Homo sapiens: one gene and its partners. The protein of the gene in region 2 purifies or fractionates together with the protein of the main gene of each other region. This does not show direct contact. Each region holds a gene or a part of one and is shown on either strand. Other genes may lie near its edges. The genes, in order: GPATCH2, CDK11B, GPATCH8, SPDEF, NKAP, RBM25 and PNISR.

Region 1 (2,799 bases), about 220 Mb from region 2:
ATCCAGTAAGAATGCTTCAAAAGAACATCTCTTCTGGTCGTCCATAGTTCCCTAACCAACCTGTCCTCTAGGTACAATATCCCTGGGAAAGAAGATAATTCTCAAGAAATGTACATTTGGCAAACCGTGAAGGCTTTCAAATAGCAGGTTGGACTTCCCCTCCCTAGTTGGCAGGATTTTTTTTAGGGGACCACCTGAGAAAGGTCTGTTACGTGCATAAACCTCCTTTAACACCTTTTAAAAACTCTTCTGGGGGCTGGGCGCTGTGGTTCATGCCTGTAATCCCAGCTCTTTGGGAGGCCAAGGTGGGCGGATCACTTGAGGTCAGGAGTTCGAGACCAGCCTGGCCAACATGGTGAAACTCCGTCTATACTAAAAATACAAAAATTATCCGGGTATGGTCGTGGGTGCCTGTAATCCCTGCTATTTGGGAGGCTGAGGCAGAACAATCACTTGAACCCAGGAGGGGGAGGCTGCAGTGAGCCGAGAGTGCGCCACTGCACTCCAGCCTGGGCGACAGAGGCAGACTCTGTCAAAAAAAAAAAAAAAAAAAAAGAAACAAAAAAACTCTTTTGGAAAGTGACAAGATTTTAAAAACCCATTAGAAAGGTGATTCACATGTGTTATCTCAGTCTTTACTCAACCAGCAAAGGCCATTATAAATAGAATGATAATAATCATCATCATAATAAGTTGTTAATAATGAAGATAATAAATAAAGATCTTCTAAACTAAAAGCAATTTAGAATTTCTGATACTATGAAGCAAATGACTCAGAAACAGCTCAATACTAGGCACGTAATACAAACGACCTCTTTTGCTAGGTTTTAAAGTAACATCTTGGGTCCTAGAAAGGGCAAATCAGTACCATTTACTTCTTTTGTTCACCTTCTAAATGGGTTGGGTCATTGCCAGAAATCTGAGTTCTGGGAGAGCCATTTAACTTTTCATGTAAATTGATTCAATATTGTAATAAATTACTCCAATGATTAAAATTTTAAATCCGTTTACTACACTTGAGTTGATCTTAAAAATAATATCAATCTTTGGGAAAACAGAGGTAGAAGTACATCTGGATTAATAGAATTTACAGTTCAATCACGGTGAATTTAAAAAATACATTTTTCTTTCAATAATTATTTTATGTTCTAAATGAGGTAAAATTTATAAAATCTGCATTAAAGTAAGGTAGAGGGCACTCTGGTGATAACAACGATGAGGTTTATTTTTGTCAAAACATCCAAGGGAAACATTAATTGTTGTTTGTCAACTGTGAACTTCACACTACATTGTCTAAGGATAGAAAATTGATGGGTATCACTCTGTCAGAAAATCCTCACCAAGAAGCCAATTCAAGGAATATGAAATTGACAAGCCTTTCAAACAAAGATGTGTTCGGACTTCACTGATGCGATGGTAGGTCTTTTGGGTTACAATAGATAGGGATGATATAAAACACAATCTTTTCCTGTCTATTCCATTTTAGAAACTGGTGGGTGTGCTCACGTTTGTCTGGGCATTGCAGCACTGCACACATACATGAATTAAGCAAAGCATCGGAAAGTATTGACACATGAGACTAAAATAAATAAGAGAAACGAGCTGCTCTTTATACCTAGAAATAGCTGGAAATTACTGAAAAAAATTAAAGTGCAGAGGTTTTCATTTTAGCACCATGAATTGTGATGAAATCCCATTTCTCTCACTATGGCAGGACTGTATGCAGTAAGGAAGCTAGAGTGATGTGTTTGAGGCAATGTAGATTTTTGCTTCAAAAACAGAAGTCATGTTATCATTTTAGAACAATGGGACATAGTGAATAAAGTCTGTAAAACATTTCTTCTTTGCTTTTCTTAGGCGGATTTTCCTGCATTGGGGGTAGTAGTTGCGGAAGTACTTTTTGGTAGAGGAAATCCAAGTCCTAATCCCTTTGGCCTCTGCATGGCTTGAATTGGCTCAGAGATCCCCTTGCCATCTCGTCCAAGGCCTGACCCAGGCGTCCAGCCCATATTCTGAAGCATTCGGTTTCCAATATTATTTTCTAGGATTGGCTGGGCATTTTCACCTACAAATCCTGAAATGATAAAACAACAGCACACATTAATCAGTATGAACACAGGTGAAGATATTAGGCTATGAAAACGATGTTCTCCTAAGTTTTGTTTTGTTTTGTTTTTCAACCAGGTACTAGAGGGGGTTGCGTATTCATCTTTGGATACTTTTTGTAGTTGAGAGAACAATGGAAGAAAGATCTTGTTTAGAATTTCAATTCTAGCACTTCACAGCAGGGTGAGCTATTCAGCCTCTCTGGGCTTTTGTTTCCTCATCTGTGAAACAGCCATAATACAACCTACATTGCCTATCTCACAGAACTTTGTAGGACAGATGAGATCATGTATGTAAAGAAACTTCTCAGTAAACCATAAAGTACTCTACTAATGGATTTATTTTCATTACCATGTTAGCCTTATGGATTATTCAGAAAATCACCAACCTATATTGTAATATCTCACATTTGCCCATGACCTTGACATTCAACAGAACCAAAACTAAAACCAAACCAAACAAAAAGCACAACTGGTGGCATCTTGAATTCCTAGGAATTTACATTCTTATAATCTCTCTCCTTGTTATTTATTATTCAGTCTGTAACATATGCCTCCTTTAGTTCCTTTCCTCCTTTTCCTTCCATGGCCATGTTTAAATGATTATATAAGTTAGTAGAAAGAAAATAGAGGAAAATAATATTAAAGAGATATATATTATAAAACTTAAAAAATATATTATATACATTTGCAG
Region 2 (3,500 bases):
GTGGGTGGGGGCTGGGAGGACTGGCACAGGGTGGGGGACCACCTTGCCAGAGTGGAGGCCCCCCAGGAGGTAGGAGCTCCCCTCCTGCCTGGGGAAGACACTGGCCCACATGGGGTCAGAGGCCACAGCCGCCCACCCCACCCTCTTCCCCTAGAGCCCGGTGGTCTGCGACTCCCCTCCCACACATGGTCCCGGGTCACTCAAAGGACGACACGGGGAGCTTTCCTCGAAGAATATTTTAATACATTTTAAAACTCAACAACCTTGTATAAAAACCTGTCGAGTCTGCTGGCACAGCTGGGGCTGGGGGTTGGGGGCCGGGGGCCTGTGTGGACAGGGCTGGTCTGGACGAGTGGGTTGGGGCAAGAGGGCATCGCTCATCCCAACACAGAAACAGGTCTCCAGCTCCGAAGATTAAACAATCCACCCGGCTCCCACCAGTTCCTTTCCAAATCACGGCCCAGCCAGCCCCGTGCGTGTCGAGAGTGGGAGAGGGTGTGTGGAGGTTTGTGCTGCCCCACGTGGGCACCCGAAGATGTCCACCCTCTCCGCCCTGGGCAAGTCACGGAGAAAACACAGCTCTTTCCTCCACAACAAGGAAAATGATTTAATTCTACAAATTTACAAACCAAAATACAAAAACAAAACATGGAGCACAAAGTAAGACGAGGAGTTCCGAGTCTCATCGCAGCTCCAGCCGCAGTAGCCACGCCTGTGGTCCCGGCTGAGTTCTCCCCATGACGGGGTCCACTCTGACCTTCAGAACTTGAGGCTGAAGCCGGGGCCCGCGGCAGAGGCCCCCTGGTTCGTGGTGGTAAGGTGGAAGCCCGTCTCCTTCAGGTCGTCGTCACCCTGGGACGAGTCGGCTACCGTGAGAACCCTGCCCAAGCCAGCCCCACCTGTGGGCACGCCCCACCCGCCAGGCCCCTCACCAGCTGGCTGTAGCCCAGGCCTCCCTCAGGGGGCCTCGGGCTGGTGCCCCGCTTCACACGCTGCTGCTCGCTCTTGGCGGGCCACGTGGGGAACATGGAGGGGTCGATGGGGAGGGGGGTCTCGCGGAAATACTCATGCTTGAGGCCGTCCTCAGCGCTGATCCTCCTCCCGGGGAAGTAGGTCAGGAACCTGGGGGGAGAGGGCCAGAGGCCCAGGAGGTGCTCGTGTGCTCCACTGGGTCCCCCAAAGATGGGCTGTGTTGGGACGGGGCTCAGGGCATGGGACGCCAGGCACCAGAGCAGTTCTGGAACGTGGTGAGCCAGCAGGTAGGCCTGGGACTGGGAAGTCACCGCTATGGCTCGGGACCTCCCGCCACCCGGCTGCACTGGGCTCACTTGTTCATGAGGTCGAAGCCCTGGTCTGAGAGCAGAGCCCCGAAGCGCTTGCGGAGGTTGTTGTAGGGGTGCTCGCTGAAGGTCATCTTCTTGACTGCTGGGAGCTCGCTGTAGCCGGGCCAGATTTTCTCACTAGGGGTCCCCAGATCCTGAAAGACAGAGGTGCTTCAACAGCCACACCAAGTGGCCCACAGTGTTGGCACCTGTGTCCCGTCAGAGAAGACAAGCCACCAGGAGGGCTCTCAGTGGCCCTGGTCCCCATCTCAACCCAGCACCTGTGCGCCCCGCAGCCCCATTCCTGCAACTCCTCCACAACCCCACAGCGCACCTGCAGCAGGGCCAGACCCACCTTGAACACCTTGTTGATCTGATCGATTTCTGACTTCCCGGGGAACAGAGGCTTCTGAGTCAGCAGCTCCCCGAAGATGCAACCCACTGACCACATGTCCACGGCCGTGGAGTATTCCTAAGAGGTCAGGAGAGGTGTTCAGGAGGGCCAGTGCCCGCGAAGCTGTGGGAGGCTGCGTGGGGGACAGGGGAGGCACTCAGACGCCCAGGACTCACCTTGGCACCAAGCAGCAGCTCTGGGGCGCGGTACCACAGGGTCACCACGACCGGGGTGTAGGCCTTCAGAGGGGATCCGTACTCCCGCGCCAGCCCGAAGTCACCCACCTGCAACGACAGATGGGCGGCTGTGAGTGGGCCCCGGCAGGTCTCCCTGGGATGGGCCACTCGGAGGGGGGCTCACCTTGAGGATGCCGGCGTGGCTCAGCAGCAGGTTGGACGTCTTGAGGTCACGGTGCAGGATCCAGTTGTCGTGCAGGTGTTTCACCCCACGCAGCAGCTGGATCATCAGGGTCTTCACCTCCCCTGGGAGGGAGGGAAGCTCCCATGTGGACCTGGCTGCCCCCAGCCCAGGGCACTCAGGGTGGCCCACTCGCCTCGGCAGCAACAGAGGCTTCTCAGGGCTTTCCCTGTGGATGCAGCTGGCCCTCCCTGCAGCACTGTCACCGCGGGGGTGACCAGGACCCTGCCCCCACTTGTACGCAGACAGGCCCCTGGGGCGCGGCTGTACCTGGCAGGAAGGGCTGTTTCATGGTCTCCATCAGGCTCTTGAGGTCGTGCTCCACATAGTTCATCACGATGTAGATCTTGTCCATGTTGCTGCCCACCACAATCTCCTGCAGGGCACGGCTCTGTGGGTGCTGGGCACCTCCAGGCCCCCACCCACCCCTGCACCCGGGTGCAGCTGCTGAGGGACAGTAAGGACCTCCGGTGCCACCCGGGAGGCAAATGCTTGCTTCTGTGTGGTCTGTGAAGGGCTCCACTAAGTGCAGGAGAGTGTAGGAAGCACCCGGCCCCAGGACAGCACGGGGCCCTGTCAGAAAAGCCTTCCACCCGGGGCCAGGCGTGGTGGGGCCATGCTCACTCTAACGGTGACGATGTTGGGATGCTGGGCCTTGAGGATGGTGTTGATCTCCCTCAGCGACGTGATCGGGAAGCCCTCCTTCTCCTTCTCCATCTTCAGCCGCTTTAGAGCCACAATTTCATCTGTGAAGAAAATACAGACGGCACTGAGAGGCATTCTCAAAGTCACGGTACCAACAGTGGACTCGTTCAGTGAGGACCGCAGGCAGTGCCCAAAGCGCCAGCATTTCACGGAGGGGGGTCTCGTTCTAGGTGGGGGCACGTGGGCACCAGGAGAACGCCCCAGCTGAGGTCTGGGCAACACCCACGGCTTCCCACTCAACACACCACAGACACTCACAGCCACCTACAGCCACCTGGGATCCCAGCGGCCACGCCGACTCCACATCGACTTCCCCAACAGAGCCGGCCTCACCTGGGATCCCAGTGGCCGACTCCCAACAGAGTTCCCGGCTCACACACCTGCTTGGGTGGGACGCTGGGAACGCAAACCTGCACACCAGCCCCGGCACAGACCACTCCACGCGCTGGGCCTCGGCCCTGTGGGGCAGGCCGCCTGCTACTGCAAGGGAGTGGCAAAGCCCCAGGGCCAGGCTGACCTCTGGCTTCTAGAGGTGCTGAGGGGTCCAACCTCCAGTAGCTGCTCAGGTGAGGCGGGCCCAGGTGCAGTCGCAGCTCTCGGGCAGCCAGCCCCTGCCCCACTTCCCCTGCCTTTGTGGGGTGAGGGGACCCCACCCACCTGTT
Region 3 (3,500 bases), on a different chromosome or scaffold from region 2:
AGTGGTACAATAAATACTATAAGATATCTAAGGAAAGAATTAACTTAGGATTTTATATGTATCTTTCAAATATAGGGAATACATACACGTATATATGGAGTTATATGTATGTGTACATATATACACACATATACATAAGTTGATATATATGTAATTGCCTAAATTAATATTACTATTTTTTTTTTTTGAGACAGCGTCTTGCTCTATTGGCCAGACTGGAGTGCAGTAGTGCAATTACAGTTCACTGTAGCATCGACCTCCTGGGCTCAATTAATCCTCCCACCTCGGCCTTCTGAGTTGCTAGGACCACAGGGGCATGCCACTATGCCTGGCTAATTTTTGTATTTTTCGTAGAGACAGGGTTTCATCATGGTGCCCAAGGCTGGATGTGAATTATTTTTATAGGCTTATGTTTATATAAAATACATATATATATAAATAATTCAAGAAACACTGTTTGCACAACCACTTTTAAGTAAGTTAATAGGGTACAAAATTCAGAAATAATAGAAGAAAACTCAGCAAAAGAACTGGCAGACTGCTTTAAAACCATTTACTCCTATAACTAAGGTTAAAAGAAATAGGGCTATTAAAGTATATACATATAACTGTAACATATACATATAACTATGTATGTTATATGCTGTCAGAAAATAGAAATGATACAAATAATAAAAAACTGGGTGGGCAGGCAGAAGCAGATATGAATTTGAGTTTGCTTACTTCTGCAAACTCAATAGAAGTAAAAAGAACTTTACAAAACATGAAAATTATTAAGTAATAGAAGTAGTGTACATAATATAATAATTAAATGGTATGAAGCCACATACTAAGAATGGCCATTTTACTTATTAACATTATATGATAGAGTTTTTAAAATGGAAGAGGAAAGAAGAGAAAACAAGCTAGCTTTTTATTGCTTATAGTACGAAAATAATGGACACTCAAACATGGGTAATTTCATTAAGTTATAAAGGTAACTAGAACAACACAAATATAATCCATCCTATATCCATCCATCCATCCATGTATCCATCCATCCATCCATTTATTTCCCACTTTGAGACCACATAATAACTTAAAAAATAAAATAGGCCAGGCGTGGTAGCCCATGTCTGTAATTCCAGCACTTTGGGAGGCCGAGGCAGGCGGATTACCTGAGCTCAAGAGTTTGAAACCAGCCTGGGCAACATAGCAAAACCCCATCTTTACCAAAAATACAAAAAATTAGCTAGGCGTGGTGGTGTGCACCTGTAGTCCCAGTTACTTGGAAGGCTGGGGAAGTCCTTCAAAAAGTACTCGTAGGCTGGGTGCGGTGGCTCATTCCTGTAATCCCAGCACTTTGGGAGGCCGAGGTGGGTGGATCACCTGAGGTCAGGAGTTTGAGACCAGCCTGACCAACGTGATGAAACCCTGTCTCTACTAAAAATACAAAAATCAGCCAGGTGTGGTGGTGGGCGCCTGTAATCCCAGCTACTTGGGAGGCTGAGGCACGAGAATCACTTGAATCTGGGTGGTGGAGGTTGCAATAAGCTGAGATCGCACCATTGCACTCTGGCCTGGGCAACAGAGTGAGACTCCATCTCAATTAAAAAAAAAAAAAGTACTTGTAGAGGCCAGGCATAGTGGCTCACACCTGTAATCCCAGCACTTTGGGAGGTTGAGGTGGGTGGACAGCTTGAGCCTAGGAGTTCAAAACCAGCCTGGGCAACATGGTGAAACCCTGTCTTTACAAAAAATATAAAAATTAGCTGGGTGTGGTGGCATGCACCTGTAGCCCCAGATGCTCGGGAAGCTGAGGTGGGAGGATCGCTTGAGTCCAGGAGGTCGAGGCTGCAGTAAGCTGTGATCACTGCCACCGCACTTCTAGGTGACAGAGTGAGATCCTGTCTGGGTGACAGAGTGAGACCCTATCTCAAATAAACAGTACTCATAGAATATTTACACAGACAAGGCCAGGCACGCTGGCTCATGCCTGTAATCCCAGCACTGTGGGAGGCCGAGGTGGGCGGTTCACGAGGTCAGGAGATCGAGACCATCCTGGCTAACATGGTGAAACCCTGTCTCTACTAAAAATACAAAAAATTAGCCGGGCGTGGTGGCAGGCACCTGTAGTCCCAGCTACTCGGGAGGCTGAGGCAGGAGAATGGCATGAACCCGGGAGGCGGAGCTTGCAGTGAGCCGAGATGGCGCCACTGCACTCCAGCCTGGGCGACAGAGACTCCATCTCAAAAAAAAAGAATATTTACACAGACAAAAAGCCCATTATAGGCTATAGAAGAAACTGTAATAAAGTCAGAAATGAAGAAGTAATATGCACAACATATATCAACACAGTATAATACAGCTAAGAATTAACAAAAATGTTTAAAAGACCCTTCCATGAATCTGAAGCTGCAGAATTTTAAGGTAAAAAAGGATAATGACAACATTATACAGAGGCTAAAGTATATTGCTTTAAGAAGTTAAGCCTATGTGTATTCCTTGAACACAGGTTTAACCCCTTACAGCAATGGAAACAAGAAAATAAATAAATGTCACACTCTGGAGAAAATCTTGTGTGTATATATATATACAAGAAAACTGATTCCACTTATATAAAGTTAAAAAACATGTAAAACTAGGCCACGTGGTGGCTCACGCCTGTAATCCCAGCACTTTGGGAGGCCAAGGCAGGTGGATCACCTGAGGTCAGGAGTTCGAGACCAGCCTGGCCAACATGGTGAAACCCCGTCTCTACTAAACACACACACACACACACACACACACACACACACACAAAACAACAAACAAACAAACAAACAAAAACCAGCTGAGCATGGTGGCACGTGTCTGTAATCCCAGTTGCTCGGGAGGCTGAGGCACAAGAATTGCTTGAACTCAGGAGGTGAAGGCTGCAGTGAGCTGAGATCGTGCCACTGCACCCCAACTTGAGTGACAGAGTAAGACTCCGTCTAAAAAAAAAAAACAAAATTAGCTGGACGTGGTGGCGCACGCCTGTAATCCCAGCTACTTGGGTGGCTAAGGCATGAGAATTGCTTGAACCCGGGAGGCACAGGTTGCTGTGAGCCATCGTGCCACTGCACTCCAGCCTGGGCGACAGAGCAAGACTGTCTCAACAAAGCAAGACTGTCTCAAAACCAACCAACCAACCAACCAACTCACCGACCCACCCACCCACCCACTACATAAAACTAAGCAATACATATTTAGGATACAAAACACATTAAAAAACCATTTTAAAATGCAAGGGAAAATAGAAGAGGAAGGAACACTTCCTAATTTATTCTGAGTATTACCCTGATACAAAGACATTACAAGAAAACTACAGACTAATATCTTTTCTGTGTACAGATGCAAAAATGCTCAACAAAATGCTATCAAACCAAATTCAACAGCATATTAAAAGGCGAAGTGGGATTTATCCCAGGAACTCAATGTTGGTTCAACATACAAAAATCAATCAATGTAATACACCACTACAATGTAATACACCATTA
Region 4 (3,500 bases), on a different chromosome or scaffold from region 2:
GGGGCTGAGCAGCAGGGCCAGAGTGGCCATCTCTGTCACTCCCTCAGTGCTCTTCTCAATGGGGACTAAAGCTGGGGTCTTGGGCTCTGGGCGGGCTGGCATTGGGTCTCAGGATTGAGGTAGGGGTGAGGATACATTTACCCCACACCACCATCTCCCCAGGAGGTAGGGCCTGAGAGCCGGGACCAAGCAGGATATGGAAGACAGGCTCCAACCCGCACAGCGACCTGGGTCCTTAGCAAACGCCTCCCAGGTGACTCCATTCCCGGAAACTGTGGTTCGGGAGCTGTCAGGGAGGGCATCTTTTGCTGATGCCAGTTGGGGTGTGGGAGTGAAAACCTGGGAGGCAAAGGGTTCAAGGGGCACATTTCTAGCCCCGAGGGGTGAGAGTAGGCAGGGTAGTGGCAGGAAAAGCTGCACTAAATCTCTCCTTTTGGGTCCCTCTGCTCACTTTCCTTAATCTTCCTTCCTGGGGGAATGGAAGGCGCTGAGAGAAGGGGCCCAAGGTGGCTAATCCCCCTGGCCGCCACCCCACCATTCTGCTCCTGTCTCTGGGCCTTGGCCTCCACCAGCTGTTACCAAACTTTCTTTGTCTGGAGTGGGATCTGGGGCCTCTGGAGCAGGAGGGAGCCAGGACACGCTGAGCCTTAATCCAGACATGTGGCTTAATCCAGAAGAGATCAACTCGAGGTTTGGGAGCTGGAGGCATCGCTCAGGAGACGGCAGCCCGTGGGACTGGCAGGCCAAGGCTGCAGGAACGCTGGGTCCTGCCATCTGAGGACCCTGGACATGGCAGACACCTGGCACGTCCCAGGACCCTTGGCCTACGGAGCAGTGGCCTGAGTGTCAGGAGGCCTCTGGTCTGGCCCTGGCTGTGCTGTGTGACTGTGGGCACCTCCCTGCCACTCTTTGAGCCTGAGCTTTTCCAGTGCACATGTGTCCCCATGGGTGGACCATCACTGATGGATTTAATCCTGGGCTGAATTGCATGGCACAGATGAGGCGAGCCTAGGAAGTCGCAGGAGGGAGCTATTAGGGAGGGCTCGCTGGGGCAGGAGGGCTTTGGGATGAATTGTGATGAGAAGGAAAGGGCATCTTAGAAAATAGCCATGTTGTGCCCACAGCACAGGGGCAGGTATGAAATGCCATTCTCATTAGAGCTTGGATTTGTGGTCACTATGTCAATCCCTGGTTCTGGTCCGGACCCTGCTGCTAATAAGCACATGAATCCCTTCCCCACTCTGGGCTTCATTGTTCCCATTCTATGAAACAATCACATAATATATGGCCCCTTCCAGCTCTGATTATCTGGGCCAGGTAGGAGGTAGACTCAGAGGTAGGCACCAGCCACTGGGATGGGGCAATGGGGAGCCATGGGAGATTCTTGAGCACAGGGGTGTCTGATGAAAGGGTGCTGCAGGGATATGAACAGTGGGGTGGAATGAAGAGCCAAGAGGTGGGGACAGACTTTAGAGCATCAAGGAGCCCAGTCAGGAGGTGGGCAGATCCCCTAGGAAGATGGGACTGGCCAGAGCATGCACCTCAGAGAGAATGTGGTCCAGTGAGCAGAACCCACACCTGGCCAGGAAGAACCCTGGACAAGCTGCACAGCCTCCCTGAGCCTCACTGTCCGCATCTATAAAGCAGGGCTCTGGAGTCCACGTCACCCTGGCTGTGGGTAGGAAAGCGGGTGATGTGGGTGAAAGCCTGGGCGTGGCACTGGTGCTCACTGCCAGGGGCTCACAGTGCCGTTCTCTCTTCTTCCCTCCTGAGGCCAGCCCAGAACCTTGAGACGCCTAGTTGCAGGTTGGGCACACCAGCCCTGGCTGCCTGACCAGTAAGCCAAGCCCCCCTACTCTAGGCCTGGGCTGCCTTGGGGACGGAGCATTCCCCACCACCCCTGATCTGCAGAGAGTCGAACCTTTCCTCCAACCACACAGTTAACCATTAACTTATTTTTCATCAGGGAAGTGTTGGAGCTAGGACCGAGGCTTGGTGGGGAGTAGATTCCTTGGCATTTAGGTATAGGGCAAGGTCAAGCTGGAATGTGGGGTATAGAGGGTGAAGGAGCCCGAGCCAGGAGTCAAAAGACCTGGATTTGGGGATTTACCTCTCTGCACCTTGACTTCCCCATTAGCAAAGTAGGGATGAGAATAAGACCTGGGCCAGATGAGGTAGCTTGTGCCTATAATCCCAGCAGTTTGGGAGGCTGAAGCAGGGGGATCACTTGAGCCCAGGAGTTCGAGACCAGCCTGGGCAACATAGTGAGACCATGTCTCTACAACAGATTTTAAAAATTAGCCAGGCATGATGGCACACACCTGTAGTCCCAGCTACTTGGGAGGTTGAAACAGGAGGATCACTTGAGCCCAGGAGGTCGAGGCTGCAGTGAGCCATGATCATGCCCCTGCACTCGACAGAGCGAGACCTTATCTCAAAAAAAGAGAGAGTAAGGCCTGTGCTGCCTTTCTCCTGGCAAGGGGATGGATGTGAGGGCTTCACATGCACTCAGCAAATGTGTCAAGGATGTGTCATTATATGCCTTCCTGGCAAAAGCTGCCACCTGCCCTGCCCATTCATCCCCACCGACCCCACACAACCATGCCTGAAACACAGCAGCTGCCTCCTGTCCTACCTGTGGCTGAGGCCAAGCAAACAGGAGGGCCACAAGGGAAGCGAGTTCTGCTTCTTGGAAAAGCTTCTGTCTCCCTGGCATGGCGCCCAGGGTGTTGGCAGAGACTGTCCTAACGTGGCAGGCATGGGGGCTCTGGGGATGTGGACGGGGCAGGAGGCAGGCAGGGGGTGATGAAGGAGGGGTGGGGGGCTGCGGGGGGGGGTCCCCAGGGGTGGAGCCACCTAGCGGGTAGGGCATGGGCACCAGGCAGGGTGGGGCCCAGGGGCAGAGCGAGCTGTTGGCACTGCCTGAGTAAATAATGTGGGCCCACAGCACACACGAGTGTTTGCACAGAAGGACTTGAAATGATTCCAGGTCTGCCCTCTGTCCCCCACATCCCCAGCCCCGCCTTGGTCTCTGCCCACCCCACCCCACCCTGACCTTTCCTTCCTTGTCACTTAAAGGAGCCCTTGAATGGGAGAGTTGAAATCAAAGGGAACACCCTTCCCTCCTGCTGGCATTTTCTCCACCACAGGAAGCTGCAGGGCTGCCATGTAACACTGGGAAGGTTGGGCACTGCACAAGGAGGGTGGGCAGAGGAAGCTGAAATTCTACCTAGGCTCCATTCGTCAAGCTATGCTATCCAGGGGGAAGGGATGTCATTTTCTGAGTTGTGTGAAATTGAATGGGCTAGCTGTGGCCCTACCGAAGTGGAGGTGTCTTCCAGACTGGGTTCTTTCCCTTGTCCCACCTGCAGAAGCAAATGCCAGCTGCATACGGAGGCTGCGCGGGTCAGTCTCACAGGGTAACTGGAGATGGATCAGGGAGCCCCCTTCCCCTCCTGCTGTCCCAGTAGGGCACCATAAATGTCACTGTTAGAGAGGAT
Region 5 (3,290 bases), on a different chromosome or scaffold from region 2:
TTGCTGGAGTGGGGTGGAGGCAAAGTGGGTCATGTCTATCGTTTCTAAGGAAAACTTCAATATCACATAAAATTAACTCATGTATAATAATCCCTTTTATAGCAGCTCTCTTAAAGTATCTTTACATATAAGCTCATAAATCCTTTCATTGACTGGGCTTAAGAAACAGTAAAGGATAGACATAGAGAACCTTAGCTACCTCCCCTCCCCCGCCAATAAAAGAGGCTTCTTGCTTACTAGGAATATAAAAGAGTAAATAGGGAATCCCCTTTGTTTGATTTTAAAAGCTTTTGATTTAAAAATACTTTAAAAGTGTTTGTTTTTCTTCCTTTGTAGACCAGGAATGGTTCGCTTTCGAGAAAACTGGCAGAAGAATCTTACTGATGCCAAATATAGTTTCATGGAGTCATTCCCCTTCTTATTCAATCGTGTCTGATACTTACAGGATGTCTTAGGATTGTTTTTCTCATCAGGATACATTAAAAATACAATACAGCACGTCAAACCACAGAATATTTATTGAGTAATAAACTTGTGGCACACAATCCAGCTGTATTTTTTTGCATTCATTCATTTTCCATTCTGCAACCTCCATCACATTAGCAGAGTAACCAGTAAGTTGTTTTCTATTTTCTAAAGTATTTTTTTCTATCACTATATGTATCACTTCTGAGTCTTACAGGTATAGAGCTGAGTTTAGAGAGTTGCTAAAATTCACCTATTGGACCAAACTAAGGTTGGTACTTGGCTGTTTGTTCCCCATCTGAGCCTAAGTCTCCAGCTCAGACACATCTCTTTATGGGCACAACTGGGAACAACAAAATGGCAACAGTTCTACAGCTCATAATATAACCAGTCTGAAGGGTTCCCCTACTCACAGACCCCTTCATTTACTGGGAGTTAAGCCTCACTGCTAAATAATATATTTTGAAACTGGAAAACTGGGCATGCTGCCTTCCACAATACACCACTATACTCATGATTGCAGGAGGGTGGCTTGGGGACTAGGGGCAATGACACGGGAAGGATACAATCATTGCCCTTACTTATCTTTGATCTTCTTCCCATCCTCACACTGAATAATCACTTGTTCCTACCTTCCCTGTGAACCTCTCTTGCCTGGCTGCAAAATTTTAAGACACCAAAGACAAAATTACATTATGCTCTGAGTGATTACTTACAAGTACATCAGAATATTTACTTACATAGAAAAGCACTGGAAAGGAGGAACACAAAATATGAAAGACAATTGATATGGTACTGAAATTTTTCTTTTTTAACTGTTAGATATTTGTGCAATAAATAAAAAAGGAGGGAAAACCACATCAGAGCAATAGGCAAGGAGGTGGCAAACTAGATAAGTCTCCTTGGAGAACAAAAAATATATTTAAAATACAATAGCCCTACTACAACTGATTTATGGCTCAGGTGACTAAACACAATTTGAAGCAGTAACAACACTCATAAGCTGAAAATAAAATACTTTTAGCCCTTTTATTCTTCTTGCCTCTTTCCCAAAGAATATGCCAATGAAGCTGTTCTTGATGTCACAATATTCATATATCGCAGAATTTCTGCATTTAAACTACCTTGCCTACTGAAAATAAGATAATCATTTCATCTCTAGGAACCAGTAACCAAAAAAAAAATGTCCTTAGAGAATACATTTTTATTTGTTTGTTTATTTAGAGACGGAGTCTCATTCTGTCTCCCAGGCCGGAGTGCAGTGGCTTGATCTCGGCTCACTGCAACCTCCACCTCCCAGGTTCAAGCAATTCTCCTGCCTCAGCCTCCCGAGTAGCTGGGACTACAGGCACGTGCCACCATGCCCGGCTACATTTTTTGTATTTTTAGTAGAGATGGGGTTTCACCATGTTAGCCAGGATGGTCTTGATCTCCTGACCTCATGGTCCGCCCACCTCGGCCTCCCAAAGTGCTGGGATTATAGGTGTGAGCCACCACGCCCAGCTGAGAATAAAATTTTTAAGTGGGTATTACAAAATTCAGGTTTTATTATTCAGGGAAGTAGATGGATTGAGACTCAAAACTTTGGGAACTAGTTTCTTTTAACTTTTGAAAACTACAGATTTATTAGGCTAGGCAGCAACTACAATTAGGTATAAATAAACAGAAATCATTTCAAATTCAGGGGTCATTAATGCTGCTACATGCTGACTCTTATTTTCAGTAGTTGCGGGTTAAAAGTAGACATTTCCTGGAACATATATTTAATAGTATTTAAGACTGTTAATACTGTTTAATTATAAAACTTTGGGCCGGGTGTGGTGGCTCACGCCTATAATCCTAGCACTTTGGGAGGCCGAGGCGGGCGGATTGTTTGAGGTCTGGAGTTTGAGACCAGCCTGGGCAATAAGGTGAAACCTTGTCTCTACTAACTATACAAAAATTAGCTGGGCATGGTGGTGCACACTGGTAGTCCCAGCTGCTCGGGAGGCTGAGGTGGAGGATTGCTTGAGCCCAGGAGGTGGAGGTTGCAGTGAGCCGAGATTGCACCACTGAACTCTAGCCTGGGTGACAGAGGGAGACCCTGTCTCAAAAATAATAATAAAAAAACTTTTGCTCTATACTTTGAAATATGACTGCCTTATTTAAACACTTTTGAAAAACAACCACTTAAAAATATAAGGCAAGCGGGCATTTTACAATAGTATAATCAGAATGTCCTTATCACTCAGGTAATTTAAATTTATCATAGGCATGTAATAATAATGCAGATCAAATAACCTTAACAAAAACGGCCAGGCACGGTTGCTCACACCTGTAATCCCAGCATTTCAGGAGGCTGAGGCGGGCAGATCACTTGAGGTCAGGAGTTCGAGACCAGCCTGGCCAAGATGGCGAAACCCCATCTCTATTGAAAATACAAAAATTAGCCAGTTGTGGTGGTGAGTGCCTGTAATCCCAGCTACTTGGGAGGCTGAGGTGGGAGGATCACTTGAACCCAGGAGGCAGAGGTTACAGTGAGCCGAGATCACACCACTGGGCTCCAGCCTGAGTGACAGAGTGAGACTCTATCTCAAAAAACAAAAAACAGAAAACCAACCTTAATGAAAACAGCCAAAACTTCCTGGGTTCCCTCCCCCATTCACTCTTCTGACCTAATTAAAATTGAACGAAATAAACAAAGGAACAAGACCACGATATCATAGTCCCACAATTTTCCATTTCTCCCCAACTTAAAAACAAACAGAAAGGTTTAAGTGTTTAAAATGAAATCTACTTAGTATATGAAAGACAGTTAAAAATATTTAATATCATTTTAGTTTCTC
Region 6 (3,500 bases), on a different chromosome or scaffold from region 2:
AGAGACTGGGCACAGTGGCTCACGCCTGTAATCCCAGCACTTTGGGAGGCCTAGGTAGGCAGATCACCTGAGGTCAGGAGTTTGAGACCAGCCGGGCCAACATGGTGAAACCCGTCAATACTAAAAATACAAAAATTAGCCAGGCGTGCGGGTGGGCACCTGTAATCCCAACTACTTGGGAGGCTGAAGCAGGAGAATTGCTTGAACCCAAGAAGTGGAGGTTACAGTGAGCCAAGATCGCGCCACTGTCACTCCATATAGCCTGGGAAACAGAGCAAGACTCTGTCTCAAAAAAAAAAAAAAAAAAAAAAAAAAAAAAAAAAGAAAAGAAGAAAGAAATTAAAAGAAAGAAATTTCTGTCACTTTCTCAATGATAGCAATAATTAATTAAAGAACTTTTGATCAGATTTCTATGAGCCAGATTTGACTTTAGTTGAAGAACTCTGTTGTAACACTAATTCACATCTGAGTCACACTTCAGAGAGATGTAGGCACAAAATGCAACCAAACTTCATTTAATTTACATAAAATGAAAAAGGTATAATATAAAGAAGTCAGACTTTTGTTAAGAGTGAAACAGTACTCAGGCTAAAAATTCAGTCTCCTCATTTATTCAAGAAATATTTACAAGGCCCCATGAGCTTTTTAGCAGAGCTGTTTGACAACACTAGCTCAACTGGTTTCCTCTCATTCTAATCAACGAGCCACAAAATCATAAACAGTGGTCTAAATACACTTCAAATATCAATATATTACAACAGATCAAAAAATCTAAAATTAACACTGACATGAAATCTTTACTATGTATGATAGGAACTCTGCTGAGGCCAAACGCTAGAACACAGTTTTATTTAAAAAATGTCTTCACTCAGGCCTAACTACGACACCCTCTACTCCAAGAAAAACGGGGCTGGAAGCTTCAGGAAAGTTCAGAATTCAGCCCCAAGGACTGAAATCTATTCACATTTCTCCTTTCCTCTGAGGCAATGAAGTTTTCACAAATGTTTTATCAGGTGTTCTAAATGACAGCTGCATCAAGCTAGCTAGGCAGCAGAAAAGGAATGTTATCTGGCTTTAGACACCATAAAATGCCTGGACACAAAGCAGCTAGACCTCACAATCCTTCTTTTTGACTATAAACCCCACGATGTCCCTCCCTGACATCTCTGGTGGCAGTTCCAAGTGCAAGTACTCCCAGTCATCTACCATTTCATATCATGCTTGATGATTTTTCCTTCCTTACTCATCTTCCCATTGCTGTCTTCCCGCTCTGCCCTTTGGACCGCTATTCCATTTTATACTACACATCAACAACTAAATTAGGTTTTTCCTCTTAACAGAAACCCTCCTCTATCTCCTAGAGCCCCGGCACTTCTCAGGCAGTCTCTCACTCTCAATGTCTTAATCTCCACAGGAATGACTTGTGGGTCTTCACTGTTTCTTTCTTGGTAAAAAAAAAAACAACTCCATGGACGTTCATGAGCTCTCACCACCTTATCCACTGTAAGAGCAGCTATCTGGCAAGTATCTAGTCTTTCCCCCCACTTAAATGAGTGCTCTGGCAACTATTTCCAGTATTTCTCTCCAATCTGACTCCCAATACCCAGGAATTTCCCATAGTCATACTATGCACCTTGCCATCGTCTGGGCTGACCTATCACATATAGACTTGAACTTTCTACACTCTGACCATAACCTCTCCTTTCAGTTGTTTTATTACAATTCGCCTTCCACAACTTCACTGGAACCACTAGTCCTTAATTCATTCAAACCACCAGCTCTATTCAGATACTATTTTCTTCTCTTCCTAACTTGGAGATCATAGTTCAATCTCTTGCTCAACCTTTACCATCAATTTTCTTCTCCTTTCCTTGTCTCACAAAATCACAGTGTTAACTACATGCTACCACTGACTGTAATCCCAAATTAAATGCAACGGGGATTTGATGTTTACTGTCAATACAACAGGTGTTTGGATACCTGTCCAAAAAGCAGCACATATGTACAATCTTGTGGCCATAAAAAACGAAATAGTGTCCTTTACAGGGACATGGATGGAGCTGGAGGCCACTATCCTTAGCAAACTAACACAGGAACAGAAAACCAAATACAGTATGTTTTCACTTATAAGCGGGAGCTAAATGATGAAAAAACATGAACGAAGAGAGGGGAACAACACACAATGGGGCCTATCGTAGGGCAGAGGGTGGGAGGAGGGAGAGGATCAGGAAAAATAACTAATGAGTACTAGGCTTAACACCTGGGTGATGAAATAATCTGTTCAACAAACCCCCATGACACAAGTTTACCTATGTAACAAACCTGCACATGTATCCGACTTAAAACACACACACACACACACACACACACACACACACACGTATCAGTTCCTGTAGTAATCCTTGTGATGCTTAACCTAACTGCTATCAATGCCATCAGATGTTCTATCTCCTCTACCTCCATTATCCTTTCTACATATCTAATTCAAACAAGTACATCAAGGTTCCAGTACCTGTATACCTATCTCTCTGCTACTACAGGTCATTTGTTCTACTTTTATGCTTCTAGCACATTGTGCTGGGCATAGGGAAAACATGAATGGAACTGGTGGAAAAGAATGAAGCCTTATTTATTTATTTAGAGATGGGGTCTCACTCTGTCACCAGGCTGGAGTGCAATGGCATGATCTCGGCTCACTGCAACCTCCACCTCACAGGTTCAAGTGATTCTCCTGCCTCAGACTCCCCGAGTAGCTGGGACTATAGGCACACGCCACCACGCACAGCTAATTTTTGTATTTTTCATAGAGACGGGGTTTCACCATGCTGGCCAGGATGGTCTCGATCTCTTGACCTTGTGATCCACCCGCCTCAGCCTCCCAAGTACTGGGATTACTCAAGTTTTAATTCAGGCCTAAAAAAGATTCTGGAACAAAGACAGGCAGGAAGTGAATCAAATTCAAAAGTGAGTTTATATAGATGTTAATTAAAATATTAATAATAGTGCATTTCTGGCCAGGTGTGGTGGCTGATGCCTGTAATCTCAACACTTTGGGAGGCTGAGGCAGGAGGATCACTTAAGCCTAGGAATTTAAGACTACCCTGGGCAACGTGGTGAGACCCCATCTATATTTTAAGACAAAAAAAACCAAAAACTTTTTTTAAATTAAAAGAAATAAAAATAGTGAATTTCTAACTTACCATGGCAACATCATCTAAAATGCTCTGGGGTGAACTATGAGCCATAACCTAAAAGAGAAAAATAATTGTCACATTAAAAATAAATAAAAAATTAACAATACAGTCAAGAAATTTTAAGGTATGAATCCTCAAATTCATACAGGAACTTCTTGCGGCTAAGGAACCATTCTATAAATGTTTTAATTTTCAGAATATCATTCTTCAACGAAAGAGGCACCAAAACCTGGAATATTAATCTCCATAGTGGTCTGTAGTCTAATTTTAAGTCAAATCTCACACAAGTTTTAATGCCACAATAAT
Region 7 (3,500 bases), on a different chromosome or scaffold from region 2:
AAAAAAAAAAAAAAAAAACCTTAAAACTTAGTCAGGCATAGAGGCGCATGCCTGTAGTCCCAGCTACTTGGGAGGCTGAGGTGGGAGGATTGCTTGAGCCTAGGGGATTGAGACTGCAATGAGCTGTGATCACGCCACTGCACTCCAGCCTGGGTGACAGAATGAGTCCCTCATTTAAAACAAACAAACAAAAAAAACGAGAATTCAGATTACTTTTAAAAACATAAATATTCTAGTCTTTGATACTGTGAGGTGGTTCATTTCTAGCTTTCTTGAAAGTGAAATTTCCCCACATTTGAAAATGTTTTAGTTCCTAAGTTTAAGTTCTTAAATGACTCCCGCGGGCATCCCTACCCCTTAGTTTTACTCTACTTTGTGACCCTGGGCAAGTGATTTACCTCTGTGTGCCTCGATTTTCCCTCCCGAAATTGGCAAAAATAATACCTAATTTCTCCCTACCTCACAGGGATGTTGTGAGGATAAATGTGTTCGTGTAAGAAAGAAATTATATAAAACCTCAAGGTATTATTTTTGTGGTGTTGTTACTAAACAAATATAAAAATTCAACAAAAATAGTGCTTTGGATTTTGTTACATTTGTTAAAAATAACTTTGGGCATTTGGTTAGGATATGAATTAGAGTGGAGTTAGCTCATTTTGAATTATATATGACAGTTTAGTTCATTGCTTATTTTTAAGATAAACAAAAGGAATTTGACCAAGAAGTCATAAGTTGTTTTTTAAATCTGTATGTTTACTGAAAAATCTTTCTTGAGATCTTAAAATTCTGTGTTGATTTTGTTATAACCGCCTGTTGAATGTTTTTATGCCTAAATCTTAAATAGAATGGGGAATGCATCAGCAACCCCCACACCCCCCTCCAGATCAGCCATGGATGCCACCAACACCAGGCCCAATGGACATTGTTCCTCCTTCTGAAGACAGCAACAGTCAGGACAGTGGGGAATTTGCCCCTGACAACAGGCATATATTTAACCAGAACAATCACAACTTTGGTGGACCACCCGATAATTTTGCAGTGGGGCCAGTGAACCAGTTTGACTATCAGGTGAAAGATATTTTGTTGCTTTAATATTGTAGATGTGCACGTAATCCATTCTTTGGAAGTGTCTCATCAAGAATACCTAAGATACGTGTTTCACTTTTCAGACTTGTATAAATAAGCACATTCTGTCTCAGTTATCAATTTTTGAGTATTAAAATAATTAGAATTTGTTTTCTGATTTTTTTATTTCATTAGGAAAATGGTATAAAAGATCATTACGGAAAACTTTTGAAAAAATTAAAAATGTATAAGTGCAATAGCTATATGATGTTTTATTTTCTAATTTATATTTCAAAATGGTATATTTAAATGTTAAAGACTAGAGAATGCACAGTAATTGAATATAGCTCATGGTTAAGACATGAATAAAAAATATAGATCATTTTCCTAAGTGTAATTCCTTGTGCTATGTAGAATTATGACTGTTTTTCTAGTGTCATTTTTTTTCCATTCTGACATGACATGTTAATGGAATTGTATATAATTTCCTCTGTAGCATCCAATTCATTCCTAGGGACATAGAACTCTGTGGGGAATAGTGTTGTATGTTGGGCTTTATTTACTTCATTCCCTCTGCCAGGGTCTACCCTTAAATTATAGTGCTAGGTGTCATTTTGAAATAACTGATTGCAATTATTAACTTATAAACTGCTATCATAATTTAAAATTTTGAAAGAATTATTTCATGAATTCTAGGGTAGATTTGATAATGGACATCTAGTATTCACCTTGAGATGGTAATCCTCTCATTAATAAATATTCAGATACTTGTATACTTGGTATACAGATACAACAGTTTTTATGTTGTTTGAAGAAATATAATGGCAGGGAGCATCTGCTTACCCTACTTTTGCATGGTAGATCCCATGTAAACAAGACAAAGAGCTGTATTGGCAGCTGGCCTAGAAAAGCCTCTGAAAATAGCAAAATTGCAGAAAATATTTAATGATTCATTAACTTCTATCTTTGCTTATAAATGAATATATCTGCAAGATTATAGAAACAGCTTAAGTTGTTTAGTTCACTTTTTGTTCACTGTAAGTAGGATGTTGAAATTGACAAAAATGTCTAGTTAAAGAGAAATTAGTATCTATTTGATGTCTTAGTGTTGGTAGGATTAGCTTGTAAATGGATTCAGAATGAAAAATTTCATATACTTCTTGAAAGTAGCTTATCAGCTGGCTTTTAGAAGCCTCTTTGCATTTACATAGCCGGAAAATCTTAAGACAAGTAAGCCTAGGTTCTTGGGACCATAGAAGTATCGGTGGATATTAGAGCCATGGAATTCTTGGATGTGCTGCACACATGGATTTCTACTGTCCCAGTTCATAACACACGTGTGTCCCAGAGAGTATATTGTATTAATTTGAAGAAAAAATAAACTGCAATACTCTTTCAGCATGGGGCTGCTTTTGGTCCACCGCAAGGTGGATTTCATCCTCCTTATTGGCAACCAGGACCTCCAGGACCTCCAGCACCTCCCCAGAATCGAAGAGAAAGGCCATCATCATTCAGGGATCGTCAGCGTTCACCTATTGCACTTCCTGTGAAGCAGGAGCCTCCACAAATTGGTAGCTATTTAACTTAGTTTAGTGGACCACAATTGGCATGACTTTTTTATCATATAAAAAGGATGTCTTGTTTTCTTAAAATTGTTTGAGTATCTCTGATGTGTTAGGAATTGACACTTTATTTTTTATGGTCATAAAGCTTAAAATTACAAAAATGATACTGGTCTGAAATTAAAAGGTTTAAATAATTTTATTTAAACCTTTACATTAAATTCCAGATTTTGTGATGAAGTGAAAATTTATGCTAGCCATAGCATGTTGGTATTTTCTTCAGTGTAGGCATTTCAGTACATTATACAGATATATGAGCCCTTCTCCTTTTAAATCTAATTGTTCAATCTCTGTCCACTCTTAGTTCATCTGATGCACTGCTGTCAGATTAATTTTCCTCTGGTTATTTCACTTCCCTTAAGTATTTTGGCAGAAAATTTCAATTTTTTAAATAACATTATAGAGCCAGCCTATTTCAAGTGACAAATACATATTTATGCCACTTTATATCTGGAAAGTTCTAAATTGTTCAGTATTTAATGGACAGGAGCATTTGTTAATAAATCTTTACTTTTTACATTTTAGGAAGATTCTAACTTTACTCCTTTTTTAACTTACTAGCAAATCACTTAATTTTTTCGAGTCTCAGTTTCCTCACCTGTGGAAAAAAGTGGAGTAATAGTAGTGATCTCTGAGGGCTTTTGTAAGGATTAAATTAGATGATGGTTTAACATGCTTTCATTGTGTCCTGGCAGATTGTAAGCACTAGAGCAGTGGTCCCTGCTGTTACTAAAAGTGATGGCATTGAAGAAAGGCATGATATTTAATGGGATATTTTTTAAATTTACTCACAAGTTTGTAGAAATATTTTAC

Evidence for each region.
Region 1: the proteins of CDK11B (region 2) and GPATCH2 purify together in Homo sapiens (affinity purification with mass spectrometry, with the first as the bait; one large-scale study listed by BioGRID). This does not show direct contact.
Region 3: the proteins of CDK11B (region 2) and GPATCH8 purify together in Homo sapiens (affinity purification with mass spectrometry, with the first as the bait; one large-scale study listed by BioGRID). This does not show direct contact.
Region 4: the proteins of CDK11B (region 2) and SPDEF purify together in Homo sapiens (affinity purification with western blotting, with the first as the bait; one study listed by BioGRID). This does not show direct contact.
Region 5: the proteins of CDK11B (region 2) and NKAP purify together in Homo sapiens (affinity purification with mass spectrometry; 2 studies listed by BioGRID, with this or other methods). This does not show direct contact.
Region 6: the proteins of CDK11B (region 2) and RBM25 fractionate together in Homo sapiens (co-fractionation; one large-scale study listed by BioGRID). This does not show direct contact.
Region 7: the proteins of CDK11B (region 2) and PNISR fractionate together in Homo sapiens (co-fractionation; one large-scale study listed by BioGRID). This does not show direct contact.

Annotation. Positions count from the first base shown.
Region 1 is NC_000001.11:217,429,292-217,432,090, forward strand, and holds part of GPATCH2 (G patch domain-containing protein 2), read right to left. Parts: intron 2,075-2,799; coding exon 1,854-2,074; 3' UTR 1-1,853. UniProt on the Homo sapiens protein: Enhances the ATPase activity of DHX15 in vitro.
Region 2 is NC_000001.11:1,635,005-1,638,504, forward strand, and holds the end of CDK11B (cyclin-dependent kinase 11B), read right to left. Parts: coding exon 3,496-3,500; intron 2,880-3,495; coding exon 2,758-2,879; intron 2,510-2,757; coding exon 2,404-2,509; intron 2,199-2,403; coding exon 2,077-2,198; intron 2,001-2,076; coding exon 1,893-2,000; intron 1,850-1,892; coding exon of another isoform or gene 1,795-1,849; coding exon 1,678-1,794; intron 1,478-1,677; coding exon 1,329-1,477; intron 1,123-1,328; coding exon 933-1,122; intron 853-932; coding exon 760-852; 3' UTR 221-759; downstream 1-220. UniProt on the Homo sapiens protein: Plays multiple roles in cell cycle progression, cytokinesis and apoptosis. Involved in pre-mRNA splicing in a kinase activity-dependent manner. Isoform 7 may act as a negative regulator of normal cell cycle progression.
Region 3 is NC_000017.11:44,426,907-44,430,406, forward strand, and holds part of GPATCH8 (G patch domain-containing protein 8), read right to left. Parts: intron 1-3,500.
Region 4 is NC_000006.12:34,546,330-34,549,829, reverse strand, and holds part of SPDEF (SAM pointed domain-containing Ets transcription factor), read left to right. Parts: intron 1-3,500. UniProt on the Homo sapiens protein: May function as an androgen-independent transactivator of the prostate-specific antigen (PSA) promoter. Binds to 5'-GGAT-3' DNA sequences. May play a role in the regulation of the prostate gland and/or prostate cancer development.
Region 5 is NC_000023.11:119,920,172-119,923,461, forward strand, and holds the end of NKAP (NF-kappa-B-activating protein), read right to left. Parts: 3' UTR 501-3,290; downstream 1-500. Other genes in the region: AKAP14 (A-kinase anchor protein 14), read left to right, coding at 337-436. UniProt on the Homo sapiens protein: Acts as a transcriptional repressor. Plays a role as a transcriptional corepressor of the Notch-mediated signaling required for T-cell development. Also involved in the TNF and IL-1 induced NF-kappa-B activation.
Region 6 is NC_000014.9:73,114,034-73,117,533, reverse strand, and holds part of RBM25 (RNA-binding protein 25), read right to left. Parts: intron 3,249-3,500; coding exon 3,201-3,248; intron 1-3,200. UniProt on the Homo sapiens protein: RNA-binding protein that acts as a regulator of alternative pre-mRNA splicing. Involved in apoptotic cell death through the regulation of the apoptotic factor BCL2L1 isoform expression.
Region 7 is NC_000006.12:99,408,309-99,411,808, reverse strand, and holds part of PNISR (arginine/serine-rich protein PNISR), read left to right. Parts: exon of another isoform or gene 1-844; coding exon 845-1,068; coding exon of another isoform or gene 1,069-1,092; exon of another isoform or gene 1,093-2,463; intron 2,464-2,464; coding exon 2,465-2,636; intron 2,637-3,500.